Linked DNA regions of Homo sapiens: regions 1 and 2 are each linked to region 3. Evidence: fine-mapped expression QTL. A gene starts in region 3. Each other region holds a variant in brackets. All regions are shown on one strand. Distances are from middle to middle.

Region 1 (5,227 bases), 130 kb before region 3:
GAGTCTTGGGGAGGGGACTGAGGGCGGGCTGGTGGCTGCAGAGGCAAGGAGAGATCGTCCAGGGGCCTGCTCATGTCCAAGGCCATGAGGCTACACGGCCTCCAGCCTCTCACTCCGGGTGTGGCCACAGCCACAGGACAGCGGCCCCGCCAAGGGGCAAGAGCACCGAAAGTCAGAGCCACCAGGAAAGAAGCGGGCTGCCATGTGTGACTTAGGGATGTGGAGAGAATGCCAGTTAAAAAAAGAGAATACGGAAATTACCAAACAGACGAAACAGAAGTGCCTACGTGGTGTGAGGAGTTGTCTATTGTTGATGAACGACTCACCCCAACACTTGGGGGCTTCAAACAGCAAACACGATTTCAGCTCAGAAATCTGAGCCTGTCGGTGCCTTTGGCTCAGGGCTGCTGTTGGCCAAGGGTGCCATCTCATCCGAAGGCCTGACAGGGCGGGATCCTCCCAGTCTCCCTCGAGGGAGGCCTGGGCTCCATGCTGCATGGACCTCCCCATGGTGGGACAGGAGGCTTATGCAGGATCCTCTCAGCAGATCTGCGTGAAGGAGGCAGAGAGGGCAGCAGCTAGGAAGGGGCCAGGCCAAGGCAGCCTCAGGCAGTGGTGAGGGGGATGCCCGGCGGTGGGTCCAAGGGGGGTGCCCAGCAGTGGATCCTGGAGGGGGAGTGCCTAGCGGTGGGTCCAAGGGGGGTGCCCAGTGATGGGTCCTGGGGAACGGGGTGCCTGGCAATGGGTGCTGGGAGGGAGCCTGGTGGTGGGTCCTGAAGGAGGGGCAGCTGGCGGTGGGTATTGGGGTCACCGGGTGATGGGTCCTGGTGGGGCAACCTAGCGGTGGGTCCGGGGGGCACCCAGTTTTGGGTCCTGGGGGTGGGACCTGGCAGTGGGTCTAGGGGGAAGGGGTGCCTGGTAGGTACTGGGGAAGCACCTAGAGGTGGGTCCTCAGGTGCTGGGGGGTGCCTGGCGGTGGGTTCTGGGGGCTGGGGGCACATGGCAGTGGGTCCTGGTGGGGCGTTTGGCAGTGGGTTTTGGGGAGAAGTGCCTGGCGGTGGTAGGGGTGCCTGGTGGTGGGTCCTGAAGTGGGGGCACCTGGTGGTGAGTCCTGGGGTGGGGGGTGGCTGGCTGTGGGTCCTGGGGTGGCACCAGGCAGTAGATCCTGGTGGGGGATGCCTGGCGGTGGGTCCTGAAGGATGGGGGTGCCCTGCGGTGGGTCCTGAGGGATAGAGGTGCCCTGCGGTGGGACCTTGGGCAGGGGGCATGCCTGGCGTGGTTTCTCAGGTGGGACAGGGGCACCTGGCAGTGGTCCCAGTCCTGGGTGGGGAGGGACATGTCCTGGGCGGGACATGCAGGTGGGTGCAGGTGCAGGTGGGTGAAGAGTGAGGCAGCCTCCTAAGGAGAGGGTTGGGATGGGGCAGACCCCAGCTGTGTCCCCCGGCTCAGCGAGGACAGTGAGGCCATGTCCCGATGCAGTTCTGCTCTGGAGATCTCCCTTAGCTCAGAACCAGAGTAGGTCTCACTCCAACTGCCCCTGTATTAGAGCTAGGCTGCCCTACACCAACCAAGTCAGAATATGGGATGTGGGGCAAGTTGGGGGGTCTTTAGGGTTCCCAGGTGAGTCAAAGGCTGTACTGGAAGCCTCCATGGCCCTTCCCAGCTCTGAAACCATGCGGGATTCATCTTTGTCAGAGTGGAGCGGCACTGTCCTGTGGTCTCACTGCCCCCCGCCGTCTGCTTTCTGAGCAGACATTCTGTCCTGTGGTCTCACTGCCCCCCGCCGTCTGCTTTCTGAGCTGACATTCTGTCCTGTGGTCTCACTGCCCCACCCCGTCCACTTTCTGAGTGGACGTTCTCGTGGTCACATGCATCACTTTTCTCAGACAACACAAAAGCAGCTGTTGACAAAACAAACTTACCATTTAGGTGCTGAGGACAAAAGCCAGACCTCTGGGTATAGCTGACTTCACCACGTGGCGGCCGGCAGTCATGGCCAACACTAAGCGAATGCACGTGGTTGTGCTCTGGTAAAATGTTATTTATGGACACCGAGTTTGAATATCATGTAACTTTTCACGTTTCACAAACTATTATATAAATATAACAACCACTCCTAGCTCATAGGCTGTATGAAATTAGGCGGTGGTTGGACGTGACTGTGTGTTGACCCCATGATGGACAAATGGGTTGTTCCCATTCGCCTGAGCCCTCGGCTCCTTCCTGGGACCCTCCTCTCACCTGTGCTCTTTCCCCCGTGTCCTGCAGCCCCCTACAGACCCCGCTGCGAGTACTGGACCTGGCCAACTGTGCCCTGAACCACACGGACATGGCCTTCTTGGCAGACTGTGCCCACGCTGCCCACCTGGAGGTGCTGGACCTCAGTGGACACAACCTGGTCAGCCTGTACCCCTCGACCTTCTTCAGGCTGCTCAGCCAGGCTTCCCGGACGCTGAGGATCCTGACACTGGAGGAGTGTGGCATCGTAGACAGCCACGTTGGCATGCTGATCCTGGGCCTGAGCCCCTGCCACCGGCTGCGCCAGCTCAAGTTCCTCGGGAACCCGCTGTCGGCCCGCGCCCTCCGGCGCCTCTTCACCGCACTCTGTGAGCTCCCCGAGCTGCGCTGCATTGAGTTCCCGGTGCCCAAGGACTGCTACCCCGAGGGTGCCGCCTACCCACAGGACGAGCTGGCCATGTCCAAGTTCAACCAGCAGAAATACGACGAGATCGCCGAGGAGCTGCGTGCCGTGCTGCTGCGGGCTGACCGAGAGGACATCCAAGTCTCCACACCTCTCTTTGGAAGTTTTGACCCAGACATTCAAGAAACAAGCAATGAGCTTGGTGCTTTCTTGCTGCAAGCTTTCAAAACTGCTCTAGAAAACTTCTCCAGAGCACTCAAACAAATAGAGTAGTTCCTCCACTCGCACCAGTGACAGGTCTTGCATTTCAGCCTGCAGGTGCCCCGGGCTTTAGTCCTGGATCTGAGGCTTGGGCCCGGCATTCATCCCCACCACCACCACCACCAAAAGCAGTTCTTAGTGAAAATTGTAGGCGAGCCTGTTAAG[C/T]GTTGTAGAAGAGGAAGCCTTCCAGGAGAGGTGCCATGCGGTGCCCTTTAGTGGCAGCACGGCAAGGTTCTGGAGGCGGGGGAAGCCACCAAGAGACAGTGACAGGGTCAGCGGGGGCAGACGCCACATGGCAAAGAGCAGAGAAGCCCGGGAGGTGTGAGGAGTGGCCGACCTGGCCTCAGCGCATCTGGGCACTGGGCGCAAGATGAAGCTTCAGGGGGCAGATGTGACTGGGCTCCACAGCAGGGAGGGGGAGGGGAAGAGAGAACACATCACAGAAACTGCACAAAATAAGCAGCCCATGAAAAACAACCGAGAAAAAGAGGCGAAAAATGAACAGCAAACCGGACCCTGCTTCCTCCAGCAGGAGGCTCCCACCCACTGCTGGTCACAACCCGCTGTCTGGACCTGCCGCTTACGGGATGAGGTGGGCCTGCAGGGAACGCGGGGCTTCTGGTTGCTGTTAGTGGTGGCTTTTCTTCTCACTTTGTGTAGCCCCCAGAACCGTGAGGGGCATCCGAGTGGGTGAGCACAGGCGTCCGCTGAAGAGCCGCCTGGACCAGGGCGGTCAGCGCTGCGGGGAGGCCTTTGCCCGACCGCGCCACTGTTTCTCACCAACATTCACTGTGTCCTGCGGGGCTTGAGGCTTAGACTGACGGGAGCTATTCCGGGTGTTTAATTGAAGGTCTAGCACTTGACCAGCCCCTGGAGGAGCTGACAACCACCTAAGACACATTTGGACTTGGTGTCCACCAAGAGTGACTTTGTGCAAAGAAATGGCTGAGCACTAGAATAACTAAATGCAAATAAAATGCGTCTTTCAGTGCAGTTCAGACAGGTCAGTGCTTGGTGTGGTTAAGTCGTTCTCAGACCCAAAACCAGGGATCTGAGTCACTGTGTGTCCATGGCTCCGCTCAAAAGTCACACCTCATGACAGCGCCCACCACGGGTGTGTCCCCACCCCAGGGGCCCCATGTCATCCCCTCCTCAGGTGTCACCCCCTCCCCGAGTGTGTCCCCAACCCGGGGGCCCCCATGTCACCCCGAGTGTGTCCCCACCCCAGGGGGCCCCGTGTCACCCCCTCCCCAGGTGTGCCCCCACCCCTGCTGCCCTGTGTCACCCCCTCCCGGAGTGTGTCCTCACCCCAATGGCCCCTGTGTCACCCCCCCCCGAGTGTGTCCCCACCCCAGGGGCCCCCATGTCACCCCACTCCAGGTGTGTCCCCACCCCAGGGGCCCCCATGTCACCCCACTCCAGGTGTGTCCCCACCCCCGCTGTGAAGGGGTGGCCTGCCCCTCCACACCTGTGGGTATTTCTAGTTGGGTGGGACGAGAGACTGAGAAAAGAAGTAAGACACAAAGTATAGAGAAACAACAGTGGGCCCAGGGGACCGGCGCTCAGCATACCAAGGACCTGCACTGGCACCGGCCTCTGAGTTCCCTCAGTTTTTATTATTATTTTCATTATTTCAGCAAAAAGGAATGTAGTAGGAGAGCAGGGTGATAATAAGGAGGAGGTCAGCAAAAACGTGTGAGCAAAAGAATCTATGTCGTAATTAAGTTCAAGGGAAGGTACTATGCCTGGACGTGCACGTAGGCCAGATTTATGTTTCTCTCCACCCAAACATCTCAGCAGAGTAAAGAATAACAAGGCAGCATTGCCGCAAACATGTCTCGCCTCCCGCCACAAGGCGGCTTTTCTCCTGTCTCAGAGTTGAACAAATGTACAATCGGGTTTTACACCGCGACATTCAGTTCCCAGCGGCGAGCAGGAGACAGTGGACTTCTCTCTCTCAACTGCAAGAGGCTTTCGTCTTTTACTAACCCATGTCAGCACAGACCCTTTACGGGTGTCGGGCTGGGGGACGGTCAGGTCTTTCTCATTCCACGAGGCCATATTTCAGACTATCACATGGGGAGAAACCGTGGACAATACCCGGCTTTCAAGGGCAGAGGTCCCTGCGGCTTTCCGCAGTGCATTGTGCCTCTGGTTTATTGAGACTAGAGAATAGCGATGACTTTTACCAAGCATACTGCTTGTAAACATTTTGTTAACAAGGCACGTCCTGCACAGCCCTAGATCCCTTAAACCTTGATTTCATACAACACATGTTTTTGTGAGCTCCAGGTTGGGGCAAAGTGGCTGGGGCAAAGCTACACA
Region 2 (5,237 bases), 89 kb before region 3:
AATATGTGTTGGTGTTTAATGACAATGTGGTGTGTATACACAACTGAATATTATTCGGCTATGAAAATGAAGGAAATCCTGTCATGTGTGACAACGTGGATGAACCCAAAGTCATTATGTTAAGTGAAACGAGCCAGGCACAGAAAGACAGATACTGCATGTCACTCATGTGGAATCTAAAACAGTCACAACTCACAGAAACAGAGTAGGACAGTGGTTGCCAGGGGCTGGGGGAATGCAGACTGTGGCGATGCTGATTAAAGGTGTAACTTCCCGTTACAAGGTGAAGTTCTGAAGGTCTAATATACAACATGGTGGCTATAGTTAACATTATACAGCATGGTGGCCAGAGTTAACATTATACAGCATGGTGGCTATAGTTAACATTATACAGCATGGTGGTTAGAGTTAACATTATACAGCATGGTGGCTAGAGTTAACATTATACAGCATGGTGGCTAGAGTTAACATTATACAGCATGCTGGCTATCGTTAACATTATACAGCATGGTGGCCAGAGTTAACATTATACAGCATGGTGGCCAGAGTTAACATTATACAGCACGGTGGCTAGAGTTAATATACAGCATGGTGGCTATCGTTAATATTATACAGCATGGTGGCTAGAGTTAACATTATACAGCATGGTGGCTAGAGTTAATATTATACAGCATGGTGGCTATCGTTAATATTATAACTTGAAATTTGCGAAGATAGTAGACGTTAGGCGTCTGTATCTCCAAAAAAAGGATAATTGTATGAGGTGATAGATGTGTATTAACTTGATTGTGTCATCATTTCACAAAATAAATCATCACGCTGTACACCATAAATATATAGTTTTTTTTTTAAATTCATCAATCATACCTCAGTAAATCTGGGGGAGAAAAAAATCCATAAAAATTTTAAAATTTTCATTATAAAAGTAGTATATGCTTATTGGGGAAACCTTTTGAACAGCACAAAGCTAAAATACAAATAGGGCCAGGTGTGCAGTGGCTCACGCCTGTAATCCCGGCACTTTGGGAGGCCAAAGTGGGAGGATCACTTGAGGTCAGGAGTTCGAGACCAGCCTGGCCAACATGGTGAAACCCCATCTCTACTAAAAATACAAAAATTAACTGGGCGTGGTGGTGCACACTGTAATCCCAGCTACTCGGGAGGCTGAGGCGGAAGAATCACTTGAACCTGGGAGCCGGAGGTTGCTGTGAGCCGAGATCGCACCACTCTACTCCAGCCTGGTCAACAGAGTTAGATCCTATCTCAAAATAAATAAATAAAATACAAATGGAAGTCCTTTCTTTGATCCCAGGCTTCTATCCTACCTGTGCAGGGTAGCAGCACCAGTGGCGCGGCCCCTAGTGATATGTGTGGGGTGTGCGTGAGTAGGGGGTTGTGTGTGCACAGCACTGAGAAGACGGTGCTGGGGGCTGCCGTGTCCATTCTGTGATCTCACCAGATAGGAGGTCCAGATGTGGGCCGCTGTGTGCAGTCACTGCTCTCTATTGTTTCCAGAGGCTACGGGCGCACCTACTTCAGCTGCACGTCTGCCCACACCAGCACTGGCGACGGCACGGCCATGATCACCAGGGCAGGCCTTCCTTGCCAGGACCTAGAGTTTGTTCAGTTCCACCCTACAGGTAGGGCAGGACGCCTTGCCCGGCAGGTGTTTGGCTTGTGTGTGTCTTGTAAGCATGTGATGCCTACTCATTGCTCTTCCATAGTTTTATGTAATAACATGGTTTTGAAGATCAGCTTCCTCAGCTCTCAGGTCCTAACTTCAACGTCATTTACCTAAGGAGACTTTTCCCACACTCCCCTTCCCCTAAGGCAGTTTGGGCCACCGTCTTATGTATTTCTCAAGAGCGCTAAACCCTGCCTTGGTGATACTTAAGCCAGCAGTAAAGCAGGGATTGAGGCCGAGCACAGTGGCTCACTCCTGTAGTCCCAGCACTTTAGGAGGCCAAGGCGGGCGGATCACCTGAGGTCAGGAGTTCGAGACCAGCCTGACCAACATGGTGACACCTCGTCTCTACTAAAAATACAAAAATCAGCTGGGCGTGATGGCGTGTACCTGTAATCCCAGGTACTTGGGAGGCTGAGGTGGGAGGAATGCTTGAACCTGGGAGGCAGAGGTTGCAGTGAGCCGAGATCGCGCCACTGCACTCCAGCCTGGGCAACAGAGTAAGACTCCGTCTCAAAAAAAAAAAAAAAAAAAGTAAAGCAGGGATTGTTCAGTGTCCCTCTTCGCAACGAGGTCGTCAGCTCCTCGGGCAGGCAGGTCTTCTCGTTAGCTGTGGTGCTCCATGCCCAGCACATGGTAGGGTCTCCACCGGGGTTTACTGAGTGAACATTCTGAGAGCTGGGAGAATGCCATGGAACCGAGAAGCAGCACAGGCAGACTTCAGCTTTGTAGGAGAACACGGAGCTTCTGTGACAATGGGATGTAAAGTTAGGACGCAGCCGTGACAGAACCCCATGTGACATTGGGCGCTGGGCTCAGCCCACGTGACCACTGAGAGAGCTTGTCGTGGGGAAGATGAGCTCGTCTTGGGGACGTCTGACGGTTGAGGTTACGAATGTGCAATTCGGAGACATTAACTCAGAAATGACAGTTGAAGTCTTGAGTTTGGAGGAGGTTCTTCAGAATGAGTCAGAGACAGACACACACCTGCCTCTTGTTTGAGGTGACTTGTCCTATACTTTTCTGGGTTGCTTTTCTGACCTGTGGACGATGGAGACCTCTGAAGTGGTGCCAAAGAACCAGACCTGTGTCTTCTCTTTCTCTGTCAGTGTCAGCTTTCTGATCCCTGGAAGGGATGAAAATAAGAAATGAATTTGTTGTAGTGTTTTTTTTTTATTTGTTTCGAGATGGGGTCTTGCTCTGTTGCTCAGGCTGGAGTGCAGTGGAGCAATCTTGACTCACTGCAGCCTTTGTCTCCCAGGCTCAAACGATCCTTCCACCTCAGCCTCCCAAACAGCTGGGACTACAGGCATGTGTTACCATGCCCAGCTAATTTTCGAGGGTTTTTTCGTTTTTGGTAGAGACGGGATGTCACCGTTTTGCCCAGGCTGGTCTCAAACTCCAGGGCTTAGGCCATCCTCCTGCCTCGGCCCCTCAGGGT[C/A]CTGGGATTATAGCCATGAGCCACTGCACCCGGCCTGTTGTATTTTTTATTACTGTTTTTAATGAATAAAATGTCACTGAGCCCCTGAATTCCCTCTGTAATTTGCTTAGAGCTCCACTGCTCATGCTTTGTCTTCAGTATGTGAGAAGTAACCACAGAAAAAAGAGCATTGAAACTTAGAAAATCAAAAGACAGACAAGAATCACATTCGTTTTTTAAAAGCAAGATTGCCCTTTTTGTATACTAATAAAAATTGTAGCTTTCGAAATACATTTAGTTTAGGGTTTTTGATCTCCTTTGTTAAAATTCGAGAGCTTGGCATGCCCTGTTTCTCATCGCACTGAGGAGTCACAGAGCCGCTGTTTGGAGCACAGACCGCCGGACTACCCAGGTTTGGGTTTGAGCTCTGTCCTCAGCTGCATGACTGGATGTTACCAAGTGTTAATTTGCTTGTCACTGAGAAAGGGGGTCGTACTACCCAGAGTTGTTGTAAGACTTAAACGAGTTAATATGTGGAAAGCAGCTAGAACTGCCCATAGCAAGTGCAGTGTAAATATTATCTAAAATAATCATTATTACTGTCCTTGTCACTGTTTGGATAATTTAGATATGAATACTTCAAGCTAGTATTCTTAACTAGTCACCACAGTATCATAGTGCAAAAGAATGTTCAAAAATTAAAACAAAATTTGAGGCATCCAACGTACACTGGGCTGTAATCAGAGTATTGGCCAGAGGTCTGTGGGCCGGCCTTTCTCCTCTCTGGGGACACCGCTCTGCCCCAGCCTCTGCTGCAGCTGTCAGCCTTGTCAGTGCTTTTTGTTATCCAGACTTTCTACTGTATCTTAACTGTCTTGCTGTGCAGTTTTGCACATAATGCCTTCTGCTTATCTTTTTCCTCTTTCCCCCAAAAAATGTCTTGAAAAAAATAATGCATTTGAAATAGAGATCTAGCAATTGTTAGGTAATAAATATGTGTGGTTTTTTGCAGGCATATATGGTGCTGGTTGTCTCATTACGGAAGGATGTCGTGGAGAGGGAGGCATTCTCATTAACAGTCAAGGCGAAAGGTTTATGGAGCGATACGCCCCTGTCGCGAAGGACCTGGCGTCTAGAGATGTGGTGTCTCGGTCCATGACTCTGGAGATCCGAGAAGGAAGGTGCGTGTGATTTACCACCAGCACTGTCTGAGCGGGCACACGGGCCGGGGTTGCTTCTGTGAGTTTCAGCACCGCTCGCCCTCACCTTCGTGTGCAGGCGCATGTGCACAGCCACCTCTCTTAGCTGCTGGCAGGCGTCTGTTAGTCTGCGATATTTTCCTAAAGACCTACATTTTGAAAATTTTAGCCAGTTTCTTTCTCAAATCTGTGGAACAGAGTTTCTCTTAGTGTGTGTGAGTATGTGACGGAGTATGGGAGAGAGAGACACACACCCAACCTGAAGTCGGCATGTGAGCCTTGGGTGTTGTGTCTGATACCCACAGATGTTTTTTGGCAGCTTTCAAAGTGTGTGGGTTATTTGGCTTTCAGTAAAACAGTTTGCAGCTCTTTCATTGCCTGACCCTGTTCTTTAATGTAATGACATTTGCTAAATATCTGCTGGTATGGCCTTTAGAGGTTTTACATTTTTATATTAAAAAAACAGAGAAGTCAGGTGGGGCGCAGTGGCTCACGCCTGTAATCCCAGCACTTTGGGAGGCTGAAGCGGGCAGATCAGGAGGTCAGGAGATCGAGACCATCCTGGCTAACACGGTGAAACCCCGTCTCTACTAAAAATACAAAAAATTAGCCGGGCGTGATGGCAGGTGCCTGTAGTCCCAGCTACTCGGGAGGCTGAGGCAGGAGAATGGCGTGAACCTGGGAGGCGGAGCTTGCAGTGAGCTGAGATCACACCACTGCACTCCAGCCTGGGCGACAGAGCAACACTCTGTCTCAAAAAAAAAAAAAAAAAAAAAAAAAACAGAGAAGTCAAATGGTTTTTTGGAATATGGTGGCCCTCCGTACCCATTGGTTCCACATGTGTGGTTTCAGCCAACTATGTATTGAAAATAAAATTGCATCCTTACAAATATGCAGACTTTTTTTCCTTGTCATTGTTCCCTTAACAATACAG
Region 3 (5,237 bases):
AGCACACCCCTGTCTGCCTCTGAGGTCAGGGCCCTGGGGGCTCCTGACCTGGCCTGCCTGTGGGAGGCAAAGGTGTGGCCAGGAGAGGACAGGAGGGGGCAGTCACAGTCACCACTCCTGGAGGCCCATGAAGAGCAGCTTTGCCCCCACACTTCTGTGAAGCCAACTTGGGCCTGTTTGGGAGGGGCCTGGCGCTGCAGCCGGCCGTGGGCACCTGCCATGTGGCGGTCCACTGGAGGCCAAGTCCAGCTCATATGGCTCTGGGGACCCACCGCACCAGACTCCAGTGTGGGGGTACCCGGAGCTGGGGGTGGGTCCTCGGAGGCTTCCAGTCCTGCCCCAGCTGCCATCCCTGCCAGGTGTTAGCGCCTCTGGTTCAGAGTCCCGAGAGGACCAGTGGCCCAGGAGAAAGGGGTGTGTCTCCAGCTGCTGGGAGTGTGGGTGGGAGCCAGAGGGTTCAATGACACTGGGGACAGCAAGTCCGGACTGGAGGGAGGAGACCTCCTGAACAGGGTCCCCAGCACAGAGGCAGAAAGGAGACTCTGTGACTGGGGGTGTCAGCTGCATCTGGACCTTCGTGGTGGGGAGGGAGGCACGCCCAATAGCCCGTCTGAACGGGAGGTGGCTCAGGGATCCCCCATTGTGCTGGTGGGGTGCCCAGAGACTCCAGGACTCCACGTGGGGCTCTGCCTGCTAAACCCTGAGACTTTAGGGGCAGTGGCTCCCACGGCAGGGTCATCCTTTTTCTGCACAGTCCCACTGGCTGCCCCAGGTCCTGCAGAGACCTGAGACTTTGGGGACAAGCACAGGGGACAGGTGGGCGTGGATGGCCTGTGCCGGTCAAGGGCAGTGGGAAGGAAGGAGGAGCAGTTTCCTTCTGTACCCAGGAAATAGAGTAACAAAGTGTCTCATTCCAGTTGGTTCTGGTGGGACAGGGTAGGTGGAAGGGAACCCGTGCTTGCCCTGAGACATGGGGGTGCTGTCTTCCCATGCAGGGGGACTGCGGCTCACCACCATCACATTCTACCCACAGGTTCTTATTTTAACAGATCACAAAGGTACTATGTGCTTCTTGCAAAAATTTACAGGAATTGTAGACTTTTCAAAAAGTAAAAAGAAATTAAAGTTCACCTGTTACCTCAGAGTTATCCAGCTACACATTTTCTGTGCATAATTCACTTTACAAAAATTGGATCAAGATAAAACTAATGATTTTTAAAAATACAGCAATATAGTTGCACATTGTTCCATATCAAAAAATAAATGTGTGCACCCAGGGCTCCTGGCTGTCTCAGTGGCATAGTGGCTCATGCCTGTAATCCCAACACTTTGGCAAGCCGAGGTGGGTGGATCACCTGAGGTCAGGAGTTCGAGACCAGCCTGGCCAAGATGGCAAAACCACTATCTACTTAAAAAAAAAAAAAAATTAGCCAGGTGTGGTGGCGCGCGACTGTAATCCCAGCTACTTGGGAGGCTGAGGCACGAGAATCGCTTGAGCCCTGGAGGCAGAGGCTGCAGTGAACTGAGATCGCACCACTGCTCTCAGGCCTGGGTGACAAAGCAAGACTCTGTCCCAAAAAAGCCCATTTACTCAGCTCACATTTTTGAGCCTCTGCTATTCGACAGGAACCAGAGGTGAGCAGAGCCGACTTGGTGACCCCTGGGGACAGAGCGGCAGAACTCAGCAATTCTGGGCTGCCCTGCAGGAGCTACACCCGGGGAGGGGCGGTGGCCACTTGGGGGCAGGGTGGGCTTCTCAGCTGCGCCCACCCCACCTTGGGAGCTGTGTCTGGAAAAGAGACTTTTCCTGAGCCGACAGCAGACAGCGAGTGCAAAGGCCCCAAGGCCCGCACGCCTTATTCAGAGAACAGCAGGAGGCGCGGGGCGGGTTGGGGGCGTCAGGGAGACGGGGTTTGACTGAGAACCTGGGGGCGCCAGTGACAGCCTCGGCCGCGTTGCTGAAAACCGACCTTGCGGGATGAAGAGGGCGCGGTTCCCCCGGCTGGGATGAGGACCGCGGATGCTGAGGAGCGGACTCCAGGGACCACCGACTCCATGGCCGGCCCCAGCGAGGGCGAGAACGGGTGGAAGCCGGCCAGGGTCTGTGGAGACGTCAGGGTGCGAGGCCAGGCTGAGGTGTCCCCAGGGATCCCCTGAGGGTACAGGGAATTCAGCCAGGGCCTGCGCGCCCGGACGGAGGACTAGAGGGGGCCAAGGACCACCGGGAGGGGGAAGGAGAAGGCGCAGCCCGAGGTCGGAGGGGCCGGCGGGCGCGCAGAGGGCGCGGGGTGAGCCCTAAGGACCTGCAGGCAGGACCCTGCTCTCGGCCGCGCGGTCCCGGGTGCCGACCGGCGGGGTGGGCGGGGCAGGGGCACCCAGGGCCGCACACCTGCCGCGTGGGACCCTGAAATGCCCAGGACGAAGAACGTCGCACGGACGACCCTGCCGTGCCTGGCGCGCGTCCGCTTCCTGGGAAGCTCAGGATCCAAAAGCATCTTAATATTCTCTATAATTCGCCAAAAACCATGACTCCTTTTACATTTTCGAAACGACCTCATGGGGCAGGCGAGGGGGCACACGCTCTCCTCACTTTACCTGTTCGGGTCTACACCGCCCGGCTCTAGGGCCGGCAGCTCAGCACAGCCGGCCGCGAGCGCTGGGGAGGGGACGGGGGCGCAGGGAGAACCGGGGGACCCTGGGCGCACACAGACCCCAGGGGGAACGCAGGGCCTGGAGGGGCTCAGCGCGCGACCCCCGCCTCGGGGCACGGAGACTCCGGGGGATCACTGGGACGCGAAGGGCGCAGGGCGGACCCCAGGGGAACCGGATGGCGTCTCCGGTTCGCCAGGGCAGCTGGGGCAGCCGGACCCGAGACAGCCGGACCCGCGGGCGCCCTCTGCCGCCTCCCGGCCCTGGATGCTGCGGGGCGGGGCGGGCGGCTCGCGTGCCGGGGTGGGGCAGTCCCTGGAGCCGCCGCGGGTTCCCGGGATGCGAGCGCCGGCACCCGCCGCCACAGCTCCTGGCCAGGGCGCGCTGCCCCGCGGGTGTGCCTGAGCCTCCGCGCCCCGCAGGCCCTGGGTAAGTGTCCTGGGCGCCCCCGCAGGCCCCCGCCGCGTGCCGCCCGCGGTGGAGACGGGATGCGCTCCCGGGTGTGGGGCTGAGGGACGGGCGCCGGCGTCGGGACCCTCCTCACGCCGCATCCTCGCGTCGCCAGGCCCGGCGGCCCCGGGACGGGGCGGACACTCTGGGGTGCGGCTGGCTGGTCTCACTTAAAACTCGGACCTCGGAGGGAAGCCGCGGCGCGTCCACGGTTCGTGGTCCTCAGCGTCCCCTCGAGAGTGTTCTGAGCCTTCACTCCCCGGGCGTTCCGTGCGGGCCGCGCTCCCTGGGGCTGGGCGGGTGCGGGCGGCGGAGCGGGGCCCCGCTGTCGGGCCGAGGGCGCCAGGTCCGGGGGGCCTCACCCCCGGGAAAGGCCCATGTTCAGGCTTGGTTTCAGTAGCACCCAGTAGCGCTGAAGTCTTATTTTGAGCGGCCAGAATTCCCAGACCGGATGCCCTGAGAGAGCGATGTGGCGCCTGGAGTCCACGCTGGGACCCCTTCTGGGGAGGGGTCGCCATGGGCGCGTGACAGGCAGGGGCCACCCTCTGACCTCTTCTGCGAGGCCGGAGGTCAGAGACCTTGTGCAGAAGCGTCCCACGGGCCTGTCCCACGGGCCTGTCCGGCTGTGGCCTCCGGGATGGCAAGGGCAGGCGGGGAGGGGCTTCCTCCCTGGGCCTCCTGTGCGCGCGCACAGGCTCTCGTCTGCGGGGTTCTTGCAGAAGGGTGGGCGTGTGCGCGCGTTCTCCAAACGCCACCCCCACGGGGCCTCACAGCCGCCCCGGCCTGGCAACCGTCACCCATTTTACGAACGAGGACATCAAGGTAGGTCGCTCATCCAGCCTCTCAGAGCAAGTGACTGGCGGCGTTTGGACTCGGGCCGAGTGTGCCATACCCATCCCGCACAAAGCCGGGGCTCGATGCGGCCCCAGAGTCGCTGAAAAGCCACGAGTAACAAGAACTGGAGAACGTAGGATGCTGACCCGGCGGACGCCGCCGCCTGGGGAGCCGCTTCGACGGGGGGGACGCCACCGCCTGGGGAACGGCTTTTATTTTCGTTTTCTTACTTATCTGTATTCTCTAAAATGAACAGACACGAGTTTTACCACGGGAGAAAGGTTCTTAGAAAAATTCAGATTTCTCAGAGGAGTGCTGTCAGCTCACAGCCTGGTGGGGTTGGGAGGCCCCAGATGGCCCTGGCCGACCCCTCTGTCCCGTGTGGGACCTGCCCGTGAGCAGCACCCAGGAGTCTGTCGAGGCCCCACCCGTGGTCCCCGGCTGAGCCCCTGGCTGCAGTGGGTAGGGTCCTCCCCTGTCCCCCAATTACCTATGAGGCAGCTTCGACCTGTGTCCCAGGCAGAGAAGAACGCTGCCGTCAGGAGGCCGGGGACAGCTGAGTCTTGCCTCACAGGGGCATTTCTGTGGGGAGTTTGGTCCAGTCCAAAGGAGGCTCCATCTGTTGAGGTGAGTTCATGAGTATTTTGTAAAATGGAACAACCTATTGTAATAGCATCCCTCCTCCTGTATTTAGGCTAGGTATGGCAAGAACTGAGACACACTTCCCTGCCACCCCCTCGCATCTCTGCCAGTAGGGCCAGGAAGTTCAGATATGCTCAGGTGACCACCTGAACTCCGCGAGGCTTTTCTCTAAAGTATTATCAGCAACTGTTTCTCAAACTACTTTATCTTGATCCTTGTGCCAAATTATTTATTTCCTGCAACTGTGAGGCCCCTCCTTCATGTGGCCTGGTGTTCCCGGGAGCAGGCCTTGTGATCAGAGGGAGACGGCTTGTGGCTTAACAGGGTCTTCCCACCTCGTTCACCCGTGCTGGGTGCTGAGACGCCGGGGGAGGGGGAGGCAGCTGTGGTTCCAGCCGTCGTCATTTGCAATGCAGTTGGAGAGATGCCGCCGGGTGGCCCTGACCAGTGTTAAGTGGTTAATACGACACAGAAGCGGGAAAGCGCCATGTGGTCTGGGGTGATCAGGCATTGAAGGAGACTCAACGGAGCTCCTTGCGGAGGAGAGTCGGCTCACAGACAGGCAGGAATGAACAGGCCGATCTGCTAGGGGCTGATGACTCGGGTAGGAAAGACTTGGCGGCCCTGAAACACCTTGCCTAGCTCGCTCTTCCTTCCCTCCT

Alleles and levels. Positions count from the first base shown, and alleles are read on the strand shown. Sizes are in standard deviations (SD) of each study's normalised expression. Not every link is listed here.
For the expression in tibial nerve of the gene that starts at base 2,973 in region 3, A is the high allele of the variant in region 2 and C is the other (large effect, 1.1 SD a copy in GTEx).

What was found. PIP is the estimated chance that this variant, and not a neighbour inherited with it, causes the effect.
Region 1: its variant is the best candidate, but not a certain one, in a credible set for the expression of AHRR in whole blood (TOPMed, PIP 0.70).
Region 2: its variant is the best candidate, but not a certain one, in a credible set for the expression of AHRR in tibial nerve (GTEx, PIP 0.84).

Annotation. Positions count from the first base shown.
Region 1 is chr5:192,440-197,666 of GRCh38, forward strand. LRRC14B (leucine rich repeat containing 14B) reads left to right here. Exons shown (of 2, transcript NM_001080478.3): 2 at 2,269-3,895. The coding sequence ends at 2,914. It overlaps CCDC127 (coiled-coil domain containing 127), which reads right to left. Exons shown (of 3, transcript NM_145265.3): 3 at 4,429-5,227. LOC124900929 (a long non-coding RNA gene) reads right to left here and starts at 2,288. Exons shown (of 2, transcript XR_007058670.1): 1 at 1,923-2,288; 2 at 289-549. The variant C/T (reference allele first, on the strand shown) is at 3,068.
Region 2 is chr5:229,361-234,597 of GRCh38, forward strand. SDHA (succinate dehydrogenase complex flavoprotein subunit A) reads left to right here. Exons shown (of 15, transcript NM_004168.4): 7 at 1,516-1,640; 8 at 4,117-4,285. Among named protein-coding and RNA genes, the nearest start is that of SDHA, 14 kb to the left of the region's middle. The variant C/A (reference allele first, on the strand shown) is at 3,126.
Region 3 is chr5:318,742-323,978 of GRCh38, forward strand. AHRR (aryl hydrocarbon receptor repressor) reads left to right here and starts at 2,973. Exons shown (of 11, transcript NM_001377236.1): 1 at 2,973-3,078. All of the region lies in intron 3 of PDCD6-AHRR (PDCD6-AHRR readthrough (NMD candidate)), which reads left to right. RefSeq lists enhancers at 1-75, 3,209-3,776, 3,865-3,984 and silencers at 2,185-2,444, 2,595-3,084, 3,175-3,554, 3,565-3,624.